Homo sapiens: one gene and its partner. The protein of the gene in region 2 purifies or fractionates together with the protein of the main gene of each other region. This does not show direct contact. Each region holds a gene or a part of one and is shown on either strand. Other genes may lie near its edges.

Region 1 (3,818 bases), on a different chromosome or scaffold from region 2:
CAAAGCCTAACCATATCAGATGGTGACCTGCAAAGTTGTAGATGACTGTAACAAAGAAGGGAAGCAGGTAGTATAGTAAATTATTCCCATTGACTTCTGCAGCATTTGACAGTGATAGCCCGTTTCCCATTTGCACCCATTTTCTTCTGCACCACTGTTCTTTCTTAGTTCATAACTGAGTTATTTCTCAGCCTGCCCTTCACTATCGGTTCTTTGCTCCCTGTTCACCTGTGCTCTCTTTTCAAGTATTACCTTGTCAAAGTCCTACTCAATTGCCACAGAATAAAAGCTGAAAAGTTTTTCCAGAGATATGTGTGCATAAGGGTGGGGAGGCACACGGGAGGGCAAGTAAATGGAAATCTCTTTTGAGTGCATTCTGAATGAGATGCTTTGTTTTTGTTGCCTTTAATTTTCATTCAGTCTTGTGAGGTACTTTGTATCTGCTTTATACAATAGGAACTAAGGTTCAGAAAGGTAAAATAATTTGTCTTAGACCAGCCAACCAGTAAAGTAGTAGAGAGAGGATTTGAATGTCTATGATTTCAAAATTTGGATCTTTTACTTAGCTGATGTGACAGCCACGAAATAAAGATAAAAAATAGCACCACCAAATTGGGATTTAGATTGAGTAATTCTATCCCAAAACACCAAAAATACATGCTTATTACAAAATAAATATGCCATACAACTAATATGGTAGCTGTTACCAAAACAAATTAGTTCTCTCTCGTACTCACATATCTGTTTTATAGCACTCATCAGTATGATGTGTATAATGGTCCTATTGAAAGTCTTCTGGGATTATAGGCGTGAGCCACCACTCCCAAGGCGGGTGGATCACCTGAGGTCAGGAGGTCGGGACCAGCCTGGCCAACATGGCGAAACCCCATCTCTACTAAAAATACGAAAATTAGCCAGGCGCGGTGGCACGCGCCTGTAGTCCCACCTACTCGGGAGGCTGAGTCAGGAGAATCACTGGAACCTGGTAAGCAGAGGTTGCAGTGAGCCAAGATCACGCCACTGCACTCCAGCTTGGGTGACAGAGTAAGACTGTCTCAAAAATAAAATAAAATAAAAGGCTCCTATTGTTCCTAACTTAGGAGCAGGGATCAGGCCTATCATTCTAGCATCATCTAACAAAGTTCCACAAACAGAGCAACCAGATATCCAAGATCTTTGATCTTAATATCAAATTCATATATTGTCTTTTTTCTATAAAACTTTGAAATGTCTCAGAAATCCCAGTATTTTGGCATTCACACTACTGTCCTGGGTCTTATTCAGTGGTTTAGAGACCACTCGCATATGTGTATACAGTATTTCTCAATGAATCCTTGTTGATTCATTAGCCTTTTAGAGAAAGGACCGTGTGTTGAGGGTTTAGGCTGTTGGTTGAAAGAGAAGGTGATGGCTAGGGAGGAGAGCTTTCCAGGCAGAATGTGGTAATATGCAAAGGCATGGAATCAAGACGCGCAGGAAATGAGCATGGGGTAGCTCTGTAGGACAAACAGTTCAGGGACTGCTGGTGAATTCAGAGAGGATGGACAGGGGCGCAGGGATGAAGCCATCAGTGGCCTCGTTTGTCTTAGAAACCTTAAAGGCAATATGGATACCTTGAAAGATCTTCAAACAAGCAAGTGACCTGATCAAATTTGGGTTTCAGAAAGATTATACTCTGGCAGCCTGGGACAGGTGAATTAAGGATGGTTGAGCCTAGAAATAGAGAAGCCAGTGAAAGAGCTGTTACAGCAACCCAAGTGAGAAATGATGAGGGTTTGTGCTGTGGCAGTGAAGAAGGGAAAAGAGATGTAAGTGTCTAGGTAGATGTGATGCGTTCATTGAAATAGGTATTAGAGGAGAAACATGTTTGGAGAGGAGCAAAGTTCTGGACAAGTTGGGACTGCAACATCAGTAGGACCTCTAAATGGAGTTGTCTTAGGCAGTTGGAGATGTGACAGGACATGCAAACATCTATTAATTTGTCACAAAAATGTTAAGGGCAATGTCCACTTCTTCCTTTGGTATCCTTATATAACATCCATCCTAGCCCAATCAGCCTGAGACCACCAGGGATGAATGTATAGTCTGATTTGTGAATGCTTATAACCAGGAAGACCACACACCAGAGAACTGTGGGCATCTTACCAACAAAGAAAAAGAGAGTTATTAGAAGTTTAGGGGAAGAATGGAGTTTAGGTAAAATTTAAATGAAATGGTGTTTTGACAACCTCAGTACAAAGCATAGGTGTCGTCGTCAGCTCTGGATCGAAAAGTGGACCAGGGTTTTCTTTCTTTGAAGTTAAAAGATTGAGTGTCATGTTCATGTTGAGAAATGTTATTTGACATCCTGGAGCTGGGTTGGAGATCAAGGCTGCTTCTGTGTCAGGGCGCCGTAGATCTTCTAGACAAAAGTGGGATGTTTCCTTCTTACAGATCAGACTTCAAACAGCAAATTTCTGGTAGTTAATGATTTTAGAGAACAAGATTTCCCAATGAATAAGAAAGCAGTAATCACTCAAATAACGGATCTATTAGCACACTCCGTGGCTGTCGTACACCCTCGGGAGACATGTTTCCTTTCAGCTGACTTTGTGTGTGTCTGTTATCCTAGCTTGATTGATACAGCACAGGGCAGATTTTTACATTTGCAGTCCAAGATAATTTTTACTTACGAGCACCACTGAAATATTTAAGAATTAAATCCAAAGAAAGGCTTTTAACAAAAGAACTAGTGTTTTCTGGTCTGACAATGAAGATGAATTTAGAGTTGATAAGAAAAATGGTCCAGGCTCAGTGTGGTGGCTCACGCCTGCCAGCGCTTTGGGAGGCCAAGGCAGGTGGATCACTTGAGGTCAGGAGTTCGAGACCAGCCTGGCCAAGATGGCAAAACCCCATCACTACTAAAAATACAAAAAAAGTAGCCGGGCATGGTAGCAGATGCCTGTAATTGCAGCTACTTGGGAGGCTGAGGCCAGAGAATAGCTTGAACCTGGGAGGCGGACGTTGCAGTGAGCCGAGATTGCTCCACTGCACTCCAGCCTGGGTGACAGAGCGAGACTCTCTGTCAAGAAAGAAAGAGAGAGAGAGAGAGAAGGAAGGGAGGGAGGGAGGGAGGGAGGGAGGGAGGGAAGGGAATGGAAGGAAGGGAAGGGAAGTAAGAAAAATGGTCCAATGTGTTCTCATTTGAAGCCTTCTGACCTACCTGAGAGCTCTGTGGACTCTGAACTCGCCAGCAAGCCTGACCTGTGTGCACATGGGTCCATTTCTTGAGAAGGTTCCTGAGTTATTCAAATTCTCAGTATGGTCTGTAATCCAAAAAGGATTAGGATTCACTGGTCTGTACTCTCCTCAGAGACTTTTTCATCAAATGCCTCAATTCAAAATGGTTCTAGACAATGAGAACACATCACAGGAAAGGGAACATCACACACTGGGGCCTGTTGTGGGGTGGGGGGAGGGGGGGACAGATAGCATTAGGAGGTATACCTAATGTTAAATGGCGAGTTACTGGGTGCAGCACACCAACATGGCACATGTATACATATGTAACTAACCTGCACGTTGTGCACGTGTACCCTAAAACTTAAAGTATAATAAAAAAAAAAAGAAAAACATCATTCATAGTTACAGCTGACACACACACACACACACACACACAAAATGGTTCTAGAATATAAATCACTTAAATTTATGTTGAATAATATGTTACATTTAAATCTGTGCTTTTGCTTATCTAAGCTGCATAACTTGCCCTTATTTCAAATCCTTTTTTTTTCCAACAGATAAAATATTTTGATAAAAGAAGAGACTACTTAAAA
Region 2 (4,085 bases):
TTCTTGCTTCTGCCCATTTCTTTCTCCTTCCTTTTTAAATTTTTTTTTAAAGCATCCAGAGATGCTCAGTGTATACTCTGTTGCTTAATTCTATAATTTCCAGAGAAAAGCTGTAGCTTGACTCAAACAGTGGGACCCTGAAAATTTGTTCTTTTTTAAAATTTTTTCTTGAGATGGAACCTTGCTCTGTTACCCAGGCTGGAGTACAGTGGTGTGATCTTGGCACACTGCAGCCTCCACCTCCCAGGTTCAAGCGATTCTCCTGCCTCACTCTCCTGAGTAGCTGGGACTATAGGTGTGCGCCACCATGCCCGGCTAAGTGTTTGTATTTCTAGTAGAGATGGGGTTTTGCCATATTGCCCAGCTGATCTCGAACTCCTGGCCTCAAGTGATCCACCTGCCTCAGCCTCCCAAAGTGCTGGGATTACAGGCGGAAGCCACCATACCCGGCCAAAGATTTGTTCTTGAAGTGTGACTAGGTGACTGCCTATTCACCTGAGTTATGGAGCCATGTTCCAAATCTTGTGCCTTCCTTCAGGTGTGTTTGGAAAGCACAAATGTGTACCTCAGTAGTTTCTTCTCTTGGTGGCAACTTGGAATGGGTGGGATACTCCCCGCCCCAATTCCCTCCCCTGCCCCTGCCCCGGGAGGTATCTTTGGCCATCACCGAGGACACAGGAAGGCACTCTGGGAGATGCCTGTCTCATGATGGGCTTCCTTATTAACTGTGCCTGTGTCTCCTTCGCGAGGCTCATACCTTCTTTGGTTTTCATGAGAAACCAAAAATATTGCATTCACTGTTTTTTTTCTCAATCGGAGTGTGATCAACTGCTTACGGGCTCTCAGGCTGACTCCCTGAGCATGGGCATGGCAGCACCTGGCAGCATCCCTGTGGTACGAGCCCAGCCTGTGGTGCTGGGGATGAAGGAGAAACTGAGAACTCTGTGTTGTCTTTCTCAGACAAGCCTTCATGTATTGTATTTTCTTTAAAGCCTGTTCTTTAGGGTCCAGGTCAAAATATGTACCAATTTCCTGGCAATAGGTCCCTCTTTAAAACAGTGAATTTTTTTTGGTATTTTATTGTGAAAAATTTCAAACGTACAAAAAAGACAAAAGAATTTATACTGTGAGCACCTATAGCTGGTACCTGGATTCTACAATTGGATTTTGCTCTGTTTCCATGAATCTGTATTGTTATTTTGTTGGATTACAAAGTAATTTTCAAACATCATACACATAAGCACATATATCATTAAGTAGAGTTTAATATTTGTTATGGTTCCTGGTTTTTTTTTTTTTTTTTGAGGTAAAATTTACATTCTGTGAAAGGCACAAATCCAAGCGTCCTATCTGATGAGTTTTAACAAATACACCCAGTTGTGTCACTCAAGCCGTTATCTAGATGTAGATTGTTCCCAGCACCTGAATTCCCTCGTGCCCTACCCAATGGGTCCCTTCTCACATCTTCCAGCTCCACCAGAGGCAGTCACTTTTCTTTTTTTTAAAATGATGTTTGAAAATTACTTTGTAATCCATCAAAATAACAACAGGTTTCCAGGACAGTTTAGCCTGTTCTAGAATTTAACATAAATACTTGTATACTCCTCCTGTGTAAAGCCCTTTGGCTTGGTGTGTTTTTGATATTCATCGATGTTGCTCCGTGTATCAGGAGTTTGCTCCTTTTTAACAGTGGACTTTTGAGCGATCATTGGAAGTACCCAGAGCATTGACATAGGAGTCCTCCTTGCCAAATGGAAAGACTGCCATTGACCTTACCAGCCAACCAAAGAGGGGCAGGACATTTGGAAAATCAAGTGGATTCTCCAGCTGGGCTGTTAGAAAAGAACTCACTTCTGTGGAGAATCACTGGATTTTATAGGCTTAGCTCTAGAAAGCATCATTTTGTCATCTTCTGAAATGACAATAATTATCCAATTACATCTCTCCTTTCTGTCATTTTACACCCACAGTTGAAGATTCCTGTCTCTGGATCCAAATCAGAGGGCCTTCTCTACGTCCACTCATCCAGAGGTGGCCCCTTTCAGAGGTATCCTGGGAAGGTGACGGCAGTGGGGGAGCGGGAGGAAGACTTCCTGATGAAAGCAACCCCAACTCCGTTTTCATTTGTTGTTAAATTACTGTGGGCATAGGAAGAATTATTTTTCAAGCTTGAAGCTGAAAGCTTCGTGGCCTGGGCAGCAAGCCAGTACTGCGGCTCTTAGCTGAGTCCAGTTTATCCATACAGTCTACTGAATTGCCCTCTCCTTATGCCGTTGAATTTGTAAAACTTTCCAGTTATAGTGATCTGGGTCTATCATAATTTGATGCTATGTTACAGCTTCTCACTTGACTGCCTCAATTGTTATAAATGAATAAAGGGCATGGACTCTTGTTCCAGAATTTATTCATCACATTCTTTGCATAAGCTCTCCACCCCTTAATTGGCTTTGCTTGTCTGGTTGCCAATAGCTACATCCACTCACTTCCCCCACGGGAAGCCTCTCTCATAGATGTTTGCTGTTTAGCCAGGCTGTATTTTAATTCCCAAGGACAAAAGGAGCAGGAGGCCCCACCTAGCTCACCCTGGGCTCACTGACCTCTGAGCCTGGGATTAGTGTACAAGCTGGCTGGATTCCATGCCAGGAACTGAAGGTCACTGTGAATTAGGAAATGAGAAATAAACTGCTCCTTCTTCCTGATGTCCCTTCCATTCGCCTGTCAGTCATTGTTAAGCCTGCCTTGAAGTCGAAGCTGGTTAAATAATGAGAGCCCATGGTAGAATGTTAAAAATTGTGTTGACACAGCACTCGCACAAAATAATGTTTAAAAAAATTTAAGGCATTATTCAAAACAACTGCTTTCCGCGCCCCTTTTTTTGACTACGGCTGTTGCCTCAGCCTTCATAGATTAGAGATACTATACTTTTGGTTTCTCTCAGGTGGCACCTTGACGAGGTCTTTTTAGAGCTCAAGGATGGTCAGCAGATTCCTGTGTTCAAGCTCAGTGGGGAAAACGGTGATGAAGTGAAAAAGGAGTAGAGACGACCCAGAAGACCCAGCTTGCTTCTAGTCCATCCTTCCCTCATCTCTACCATATGGCCACTGGGGTGGTGGCCCATCTCAGTGACAGACACTCCTGCAACCCAGTTTTCCAGCCACCAGTGGGATGATGGTATGTGCCAGCACATGGTAATTTTGGTGTAATTCTAACTTGGGCACAACAAATGCTATTTGTCATTTTTAAACTGAATCCGAAAGAAACTCCTATTATAAATTTAAGATAATGTAATGTATTTGAAAGTGCTTTGTATAAAAAAGCACATGATAAAAGGAATCAGAATTAATAAAATGTTTGTTGATCTTTGCTAGTTCTCATTTCTTTCCTTTCTCTTCCTCTTCCTTTCCCCTGGAATTTTCAGTCCTCATTACAAAGCCTGAAGCTTAGTAGCACTGAAGGGATTTTTTCTAAATTATTGACCTGAGAATGATGAGGAAGACCACTGGTTTTTCACTCTACCTTGAATTCATGTTGTTAAGTAGCTTGTGGACATTCTCTATCACTTTGGAATATTTTGTTTGCTTTGCTTTTATTTATTTCTATTTCAGACACCAACCATCTGCCCAGTTGAAGATTTGCAAAATAATTGTTTTTATTCCAAACATTTTGAAAGCTTAGAAAATTTATATGTGTACATATACATATAAAGTTAACTTAGGAAAGTTAGTTTGAAGCTAACAGCATCTGGCTGGGTGTGGTGGCCCATGCCTGTAATCCCAGCAATTTGGGAGGCCAAGGCAGGCGGATCACCTGAGGTCAGGAGTTTGAGACCAGCCTGGCCAACATGGTGAAACCTCGTCTCTACTGAAAATACAAAAAATTAGCCAGGCGTGGTGGCGGGCGCCTGTAATCCCAGCTACCTGGGAGGCTGAGGTGGGAGAATTGCTTGAATCCAGGAGGCAGAGGCTGCAGTGAGCCAAGATTTCATCACTGCACTCCAGCCTGGGCAACAAGAGCAAAACTCTGTCTCAGAAAAAAAAAAAAAAAAAAAAAAAAGGAAAGAAAAAGAAGGGAAAGGGAAGGAAAGG

The links.
Region 1: the proteins of COA1 (region 2) and COA6 purify together in Homo sapiens (affinity purification with western blotting, with the first as the bait; one study listed by BioGRID). This does not show direct contact.

Annotation. Positions count from the first base shown.
Region 1 is NC_000001.11:234,379,941-234,383,758, forward strand, and holds part of COA6 (cytochrome c oxidase assembly factor 6 homolog), read left to right. Parts: intron 1-3,782; coding exon 3,783-3,818. UniProt on the Homo sapiens protein: Involved in the maturation of the mitochondrial respiratory chain complex IV subunit MT-CO2/COX2. Thereby, may regulate early steps of complex IV assembly.
Region 2 is NC_000007.14:43,638,535-43,642,619, reverse strand, and holds the end of COA1 (cytochrome c oxidase assembly factor 1 homolog), read left to right. Parts: intron 1-1,970; coding exon 1,971-2,047; intron 2,048-2,938; coding exon 2,939-3,038; 3' UTR 3,039-3,363; downstream 3,364-4,085. UniProt on the Homo sapiens protein: Component of the MITRAC (mitochondrial translation regulation assembly intermediate of cytochrome c oxidase complex) complex, that regulates cytochrome c oxidase assembly.